2 separate regions of the Homo sapiens genome follow, and region 2 is reported to be linked to region 1. Evidence: microRNA targets listed by miRTarBase, many of them from high-throughput screens and not tested one by one. Region 1 holds a microRNA gene; the other region holds the end of a gene's coding sequence.
What was found. The annotated mature microRNA hsa-miR-4430 reads AGGCUGGAGUGAGCGGAG and lies in region 1 at 2,043-2,060, shown strand. An mRNA with a match to its seed (bases 2 to 7 or 8) in the 3' UTR can be bound and repressed. Matches are read on the target gene's strand: a 7mer-m8 pairs with bases 2 to 8, a 7mer-A1 pairs with bases 2 to 7 and ends in A, and an 8mer does both.

Region 2: the mRNA of THAP2 is a reported target of hsa-miR-4430. Seed matches in the 3' UTR shown: 7mer-m8 at 1,909-1,915 and 7mer-A1 at 3,225-3,231.

Annotation. Positions count from the first base shown.
Region 1 is chr2:33,416,477-33,420,543 of GRCh38, forward strand. MIR4430 (microRNA 4430) reads left to right here and starts at 2,040; the gene lies at 2,040-2,088.
Region 2 is chr12:71,676,354-71,680,414 of GRCh38, forward strand. It overlaps THAP2 (THAP domain containing 2), which reads left to right. Exons shown (of 3, transcript NM_031435.4): 3 at 336-4,061. The coding sequence ends at 755. All of the region lies in intron 1 of LOC124902965 (a long non-coding RNA gene), which reads right to left. Among named protein-coding and RNA genes, the nearest start is that of TMEM19, 7.7 kb to the right of the region's middle.

The DNA.
Region 1 (4,067 bases):
CAGGAAGCAATCAATTGAGCCAGCACTGTTATCCCTTCCACACTTTTTTTGAGACAGAATCTCACTTTGACACCCAGGCTGGAGTGCAGTGTCACGACAATAGCGCACTGCAGCCTTGACCTCCTGCGTTCTGGTGATCCTCCCACCTCAGCCTCCCGAGCAGCTAGGCCTACAGGTACACGCCACCATGACCGGCTGATTTATTTTTATTTTTATTTTTAGTACAGGCAAGTTCTCGCTATGTTCCCCAGGCTAGTCTTGAACTCCTGGGCTCAAGCGATCTGTCCATCTTGGCCTCCCAAAGTCCCGAGATTTCAGGAATAAGTCACTGTGCCTGGCCCCTTCCATACTTTTTTCTCCACAGGATATCTTGAAATCACTGGGACTTGGGCACTGTCATTATAGCAGTTAGCATACCCTGACTGAGAGAACATCAAGAACAAGCTTGAAAAGTTTGGGGTCCTGTTCAGCCACATCTCCCCATTCTGCACTTCTACAAGTGGCTTTTTGAACCTCAGTACAAAATTTTACCTTTGCTCCTATTAATTTCTCTTCTGTTGTTGGTCCCTTTCTTTAGCCTTATGTTAAGATGTTTTGAGATTCTGATTCTGACTTCCAGTATGGTTGCTGTCTCTTCCAAGTTGACATACACTCTCCATCTTTATTCAAGATATTAATGTAACTATTAAGAAGGATATCTCTTTAAGACAAAAAAAAAGTGCAATACAAAAAAACAACTTCCTTTTGCTGAGTTGCTGAGCCCCTTGTGAGGCTGACAATGGCAGGATGGTTTAGTCTGTCGTCTCCAGAGGGTTTCCTGCCAGGGGACTTCTGGATTTCAGGATCGGCCAACATGAGTCAAACAGCTCTTGGAGCTCTTTATTCTCAAACCTTCTCTGCAAATCAGAGCTGGAGATTTCAGGATTCCCTCCCCACATTCCTCATGACCAGTACCGCTCCCTATTTTCTCAATTTTTCATGAGTCCCTTCAAAGAGAAATAATTTAAATAAAAAGTCTTTCCCAGATTTACCTTTTGCTGATTTTCCATTTTTCCCAACTAGGCAACAAGACTTCATTTTGTTCACTGATGTGTCACACAGAGTATTTCAAATAGTTTGAAGCCAGAAGAAGCAAAAAGGGAAGATGCTAAGAGGTCACCAGGGCCGGGCGTGGTGGCTCATGCCTGTAATCCCAGCACTTTGGGAGGCCGAGGCGGGCGGATCACTTGAGGTCAGGAGTTCAAGACCAGCCTGGCCAACATGGTGAAACCCTGTCTCTACTAAAAATACAAAAATTAGCCGGGTGTGGTGGTGGGCGCCTGCAATCCCAGCTACTCAGGAGGCTGAGGCAGGAGAATCGCTTGAACCTAGGAGGCAGAGGTTGCAGTGAGCCGAGATCACACCACTGCACTCCAGCCTGAGCGACAGAGTGAGACTCCATCTCAAAAAAAAAGAAAAAAGAAAAGGCAACCAGGTTTCTGTTTTGGGGGGCTACATTGAAGAAATCCAGTGTTTCCTACCTGCTTTCCATGGTGGCGGCGGGGGGGAAATCTGAATGAAAAAAGAGATTAGATCCATCCTTGAGCATGGTGGGTTTGAGGTGCCTGGAAACATCTACACAGAGATGCTGAAAGTCCATGAAACTGACTAGTCTGAAGCTGAGAAGGCGGACTGGCTTAGTGCTCTGCAATGTGCAGATAGAATATCTATGGATACTGAGTCAGGGCTCTCACAGTGTTGGTCTCAAGGCAATCCTGGTCCTTAGAATAGACATGGAAAAAGGCACAAGGCAGAAAAGGCCCTCTTTCTTTCCATGTCTATCTCCCTCTATGATCATAGACAACATGCGTTAAAAATCATATTATAAGCTGCTCTTAGAACTTGATCGCTTCAGCTCACAAGTTCAAGGCAAGTCTCGGCAACATAGCAAGACCCCATCTGTACGAAACATTTTAAAAATTAGCCAAGCATGGTGGCATGTGACTGTCATCCCAGTTACCCGGGAGGCTGAGGTGGAAGGATCACCTAAGCCCAGGAGGGTGAGGCTGGAGTGAGCGGAGATCGTACCACTGCACTCCAACCTGGTGACAAAGGGAGACCTTGTCTCAAAAAAACAAAACGACTCCCACCTCCAATAAAAAACCCTCATCAACCCCAAATCTAGACAAGTAATGTCCACTTTTGCCTGAGATTTTTTTTTTTTTTTTTTTTTGAGGCAGAATCTCGCTTTGTCGCCCAGGCTTGAGTGCGGTGGCACGATCTCGGCTCACTGCAACCTCCACCTCCCAGGTTCAAGTGATTCTCCTGCCTCAGCCTCCCGAGTAGCTGGGACTACAGGCGCATGCCACCATGCCTGGCTAATTTTTTGTATTTTTAGTAGAGACAGAGTTTTACCATGTTAGCCAGGATGGTCTCAACCTCCTGACCTCACGATCTGCCCACCTTGGCCTCCCAAAGTGCTGGGATTACAGGCGTGAGCCACCGCGCCTGGCCTTGCCTGAGGTTTTTAAATCAGCTTTACCCATCCTACTGACTGGGGGAGGGTAGCGGGTAGGTGGATGGGTTGATAATTTCCACCTCCATAGCAATCACCCTAAGCCTTCTATCTTGTTCCAGTCCTACTCTTATTTTGCTTATGTCTCTGCCCACCTTCAACCTCCTAACTTTGTGGTCACTCTTTCAAATTCTGTCTGTGGTCTTTGCATTTGGTATTTGAACTTGATCTCCCTGCTATTTGAACCTTCAGTTACCCCCAACCTCAGTTACCATCATAGATTTTTCTTTGGAAGAAATACCTTTTATTAGTCAGGATCCATTCAGCAGACAGAAGCCACACCAGGTAAAGGAAAAGGAAAATTTTAATATGAAGAATTGCAACTAGGTAAAAAGCCATTAGCTAGGTAACTGAGAAGGGAAAAAAGATCTCTAAAGTATCACAGAGGTAAGTGGCAACTGCAGTCATCAGCTACCACCCTTTCAACTGAGGGAAAAGAGGGAAGAGATTGGAATTATTAAACTTGGAAACGTAGAGTAGGAGTCTTGGAGACTCAAATTTTCTGAGGAGTTGGTACTGGCTGGCTGGGGTTAATGTCTCTGAGTGGGTACAAAGGAGCGTGTTTTATAAATGGGACAAAATTGAAAAGCAGATTCAGCTGCTGCTGTGAGAAGGCCGTGCCTCTGCCCATTTGAAGAAGCTTTGCTCAGGTGACATCACAGGAATAAGAAGTAGACAGGAGGCAGCAAATTCTCTCTTCTTCCTCCAGCCTTGCAGGCTCCCTCTACCACCCCCTAAAGAGCCTGAAAGGTATCTGGCTGGAAAAATAGAAATGTCGTTTGCAGTTTCTGTCCCAGCAACCCAAAGCGAGGTATAGAAGTGTATTTGAATTTGAAAGATAATAATGCTGTAAGGTCACTGTTTCTGACCTTAGCCAGCTCCCACTCCTCCCCAGCTAATTACTTCCCACTCCTGCCTCCAGTAGAGAATGACATATTTACCATTCATTTCCCACTGTGTTCTCCAAGTCTCTGCCCTTGCCCTGGCAATTGTAAGCAAATTGTTACTATCACTTTCCTTTCCTGATTCCACATTACTGCATGAGTAAGTTACAGTGCTCTTCAAGCAGGAGTCCACCTTGCTCTTTCAGCATGGTGAAGACAGATGATCTGCCTTACAAGCAGCTGCAGATCTTTTCCTTACCTCGAATCCTTTCTTCAGAGAAATTTGGAGGTAATTCCGAGTTTCTCTTGGGCTCCCTTCAGCAGCTTCATTTACTCAGGCTGTGGTCTTGTTATTTAATGTTGCATAGCAAATCACCCTAAATTGTAAAGGCTTGAAACGAGAACAAGCAGTTGTTGTCTTTTATGGTTTCAAGGCATCGGAAATTAGGAAGCAGGTTGGCTGAGCTGGGTTGAGGTCTCTCATGAGGCTGTAGTCACGTGGTGGATGAGGCTGGGGTCATCTTGAAAGCTCTGGCACCTGGGCCGGGAAGACTCAAGAAGCTGGGGATAGGAACAACTGGGGCTCCTTAGGTATCTGTCTACTTATTTAGACTCTCCAAGTGGTCCTT
Region 2 (4,061 bases), not on the chromosome of region 1:
AATTGACCTTAGTAAATTGCAAAGGATCTTTAAAGTCTCTATAGAGTCATAGTCAATAATTTGGAAGAAACCTTGGACGTCCATTGTCTATTTCCAAATCAGTGTTTGAATCTCTCTGGATATGGGACAAAAAGAAATAGGTGACTAGAGTTAATTCAACCAGTTAAAAAACTTAATCTTGGATTACATGAGATGGCTGCTGCTGTTTCCTATTAAAGTTTTAAAATTGACTTTTAAAAGAGCAGTTTAAATACTGTTATCCAAAACTGGACACTATGTGCTTATTTGTGATATTTCATAATTTATGTTCAACCCTCTAATTTTATTCGGCTCAGAAACTCAAGTCAAGGAATCTTTTGAAGAAAAACAACAGTTGTTCTCCAGCTGGACCATCTAATTTAAAATCAAACATTAGTAGTCAGCAAGTACTACTTGAACACAGCTATGCCTTTAGGAATCCTATGGAGGCAAAAAAGAGGATCATTAAACTGGAAAAAGAAATAGCAAGCTTAAGAAGAAAAATGAAAACTTGCCTACAAAAGGAACGCAGAGCAACTCGAAGATGGATCAAAGCCACGTGTTTGGTAAAGAATTTAGAAGCAAATAGTGTATTACCTAAAGGTACATCAGAACACATGTTACCAACTGCCTTAAGCAGTCTTCCTTTGGAAGATTTTAAGATCCTTGAACAAGATCAACAAGATAAAACACTGCTAAGTCTAAATCTAAAACAGACCAAGAGTACCTTCATTTAAATTTAGCTTGCACAGAGCTTGATGCCTATCCTTCATTCTTTTCAGAAGTAAAGATAATTATGGCACTTATGCCAAAATTCATTATTTAATAAAGTTTTACTTGAAGTAACATTACTGAATTTGTGAAGACTTGATTACAAAAGAATAAAAAACTTCATATGGAAATTTTATTTGAAAATGAGTGGAAGTGCCTTACATTAGAATTACGGACTTAAAAATTTTGCTAATAAATTGTGTGTTTGAAAGGTGTTTTTTGTTTTTGTCTTTTTAAACTACTGTTAAAAGAACAGCTTATGATAAGTAATATGTTTAACTTAGAGAAGAATTTTTTCCTGTACCAAAGTTGGCATATTGCATTCTAAATAAGATGCTAAATAAGAGTTAACCAACATTCAACATGACCTTAAAACTGCTGGGTTTTGTATTAATTAAATTATAATTGGCACTGTGATTTGAAAAATTTATAGAAAAAAAGGTACAGGGCAAGTTTTTAAATTAAAACTTTCTATATTTTGTTTTACCAGTAAAAGTGAGCTTATCATGGCCTCTCTCATAAGAATGATTTTAAAATAGGTTGTAAAATATTTTGAAAATATTTGAATGTGAAGTACCATTGAGTCATCCAAACTAGGTAAGGCCTCAAGTACTTTAAACTAGTAAAATCTAGTAGCTGATAATATTCACCTAAGTAAGTGTTGTAAAATAATTCAGAGTTCAGGACCTAGCTTAGATAAATGTATACTACTCTTTTTCTCATAATAAAAATCTTACATTTCCAACTTCAAAATTGGTGCTTCCATATTTGTTGATAACCAAAACTCCTAAGGTTTTTTGTTTTCTTTTTAACTACTTTCCAAATGCATACTATACCTCAGAAATAGTGTATCAATATAGTGGGCTTTTTTTTTCCTCTTCATAAACCCACAGTAAAATTTAATCACAGGAAACTACTTATATCTTCACACTTTGTATTGATAACTTAAAATGGCATCAGTTTATCTTAGACATCAGCTTGCTTTTTATCTCCTTTTTTAGTGAGTGAAATAGAGCAACTAGCATGCCTGTGTTCCCAGCTACTTGGGAGGCTAAGGTGGGAAGATCAATTGAACCTAGGAGGTTGAGGCTATAGTGAGCTGTGATTGCACGACTGCACTCCAGCCTGGGCAATGGAGTGAGACTCCTGTCTCTAAAACAGCAACAACAAAAATAAAGCAACCATAGTGCATAAGGGAAATTAAATGTTCCCTATAGAAATATGTGTATGTCTGTGATAGTGGTATGCAAATGCTAATTATTTTATAAAATAAAAGTTCAGAACTATTCTTATCATTGCCACTTGAACAATTAAAGGGTTTGCTTTATTTCACTAATGTTTAATAGGAACCCTTTGCTTCAAACAGCTTTGTTGAAATCATGTAAAAATTTGTTAATAGAGAATCAAGTTATTTAACTCAACTTATTTAATTCAAGCTTGTGATACTAACATACAAAGGTAGCATAAACCAAGTCATAAATTGCTGTAATCTTTCCTGTAAAGTAATAGCTACTTCATGATTTTTTTAAAAATTTCATTTTTTTGCTATTTAGGATTGCATTTGCTTGGCTCCTAGTAACAATTCTTTTACAGTATTAGCACTCTCTTTACTAAGGAATGCCTCCCAAGGAAATGCAAAGGTAGGAAAAGTCTCTTAGAATGCCCATGAGGTATTTAAAACAGATATTTATGAAAATCTTTTTGTGAATGTTATAAATCTTGCTAGTTATTTTATCTTTATCTTAAGTATTAGATGTAGTTCCTTGGAATTGTCATTACATATTTATTTTTTTCTAGTATGGTTTCAAATAACTTTTTGCCAACATATAATCATCATCAAACATTCACTGACCATATCTATTTTATAACTCAAAATAAGTTGGACAAATAATCATTTTAATAAAAACTATTTTTTCCAAGTATAACCACTGTCATGTGGTTCACCCTTCACCCCAGATACAAAACACTTATTTGTGTAGCCCAGTTCCCATCTACAGTAATACCTTGAAACCTTAATAAATTTTAAAAATCATAAAAATAAAATATTGTAAAATACAACAAATTTTGGACAAGGTTACTTCATCTTCATTCATTATTACCTGACAGTATTAAACTACTACTCAATAATTTTAGAGTAAACTTTTCTGTGTTTTCTCCGTGATTTTCATTGTGCTGTCCTGACAACATGCTCCAAACTCTTTGCATCAAATTGTTTTATTAACATACATTTGTCTACCTTAAAACTAGCTTTATTCACAGAGAAAAACCTAAAAGGAGTCTATTAAAATGCTGCTTTCAGTTTGATAGTTTTTTTTTTAATCACTCTGACCATAAACTAACTGAAATTATAATGGATTTTTTTTCCTCTCCCGGTCACAACACAGATCTTCTGTTCATTTGTTCTCTGTCTACTGGGCACCAACCTCTACAAAGAACCAGCCAAAGGCTAGGTACTTGATATAAAAAGGAATATTACATTATTTTCTGCCCTCAAGTTGCTCTATCTCCTGAAAGAAACAAGTAATATTTATAATACAATATGATAAATGCTACAAAAGAAATAGCTGTAAAGTCCTTTGGTAAATGCTGTTGAATTGGAATTCAGTAAGAACTATAAACTGTAGACCTTTTTATAATCAAATGCTTTTGTCTTGAAACAAAACAGATTCCTCCTTATATTGACTTAGCAAAGGAGGTACAAGGACATTGGCATTTGACCTGAATTATGGTGTTTTATTGAATGAGCTATAAGACAACATTTTTACCCTTTAAAATGAACACTGAACAAATGTGTTAATGGTATCTTTGTTAAAAGGAAAACATAGCTATAAATAAAATACTACATCGAAATCCAGCACTGGAGTTCATTTGAAATTTGATATTTTGTGTAAAATAACAAACCTATTAACACAGATTTTTAAAATAACTCAGAATCGTATAAAGCACTTTGGTACTTATTTGTTCTCTTTTCCCTTACATTCTGTGTGGTAGGTGGTATTATCTCTGATTTACACATGAAGACATCCTTGTTAATGCAATTTATTTATTCATTCGGGCATTTACTGTGTGCCAACTTGCAAAAGGAATAGAAATGTCTGTGATCTAGATAGTTCTAGATTGAACATAGATTTTCTGCCAACAAATCCTCTCTGCTGTTCACATTATCCTTTGTTTAACGTATGAACCAGGTTACTAAAATAGGATAAATCATGTGTCTTAAAATATGAAAATAGTAAAGTCTTTGAGGTCACTTGATCTTCTCTAAGTAGACT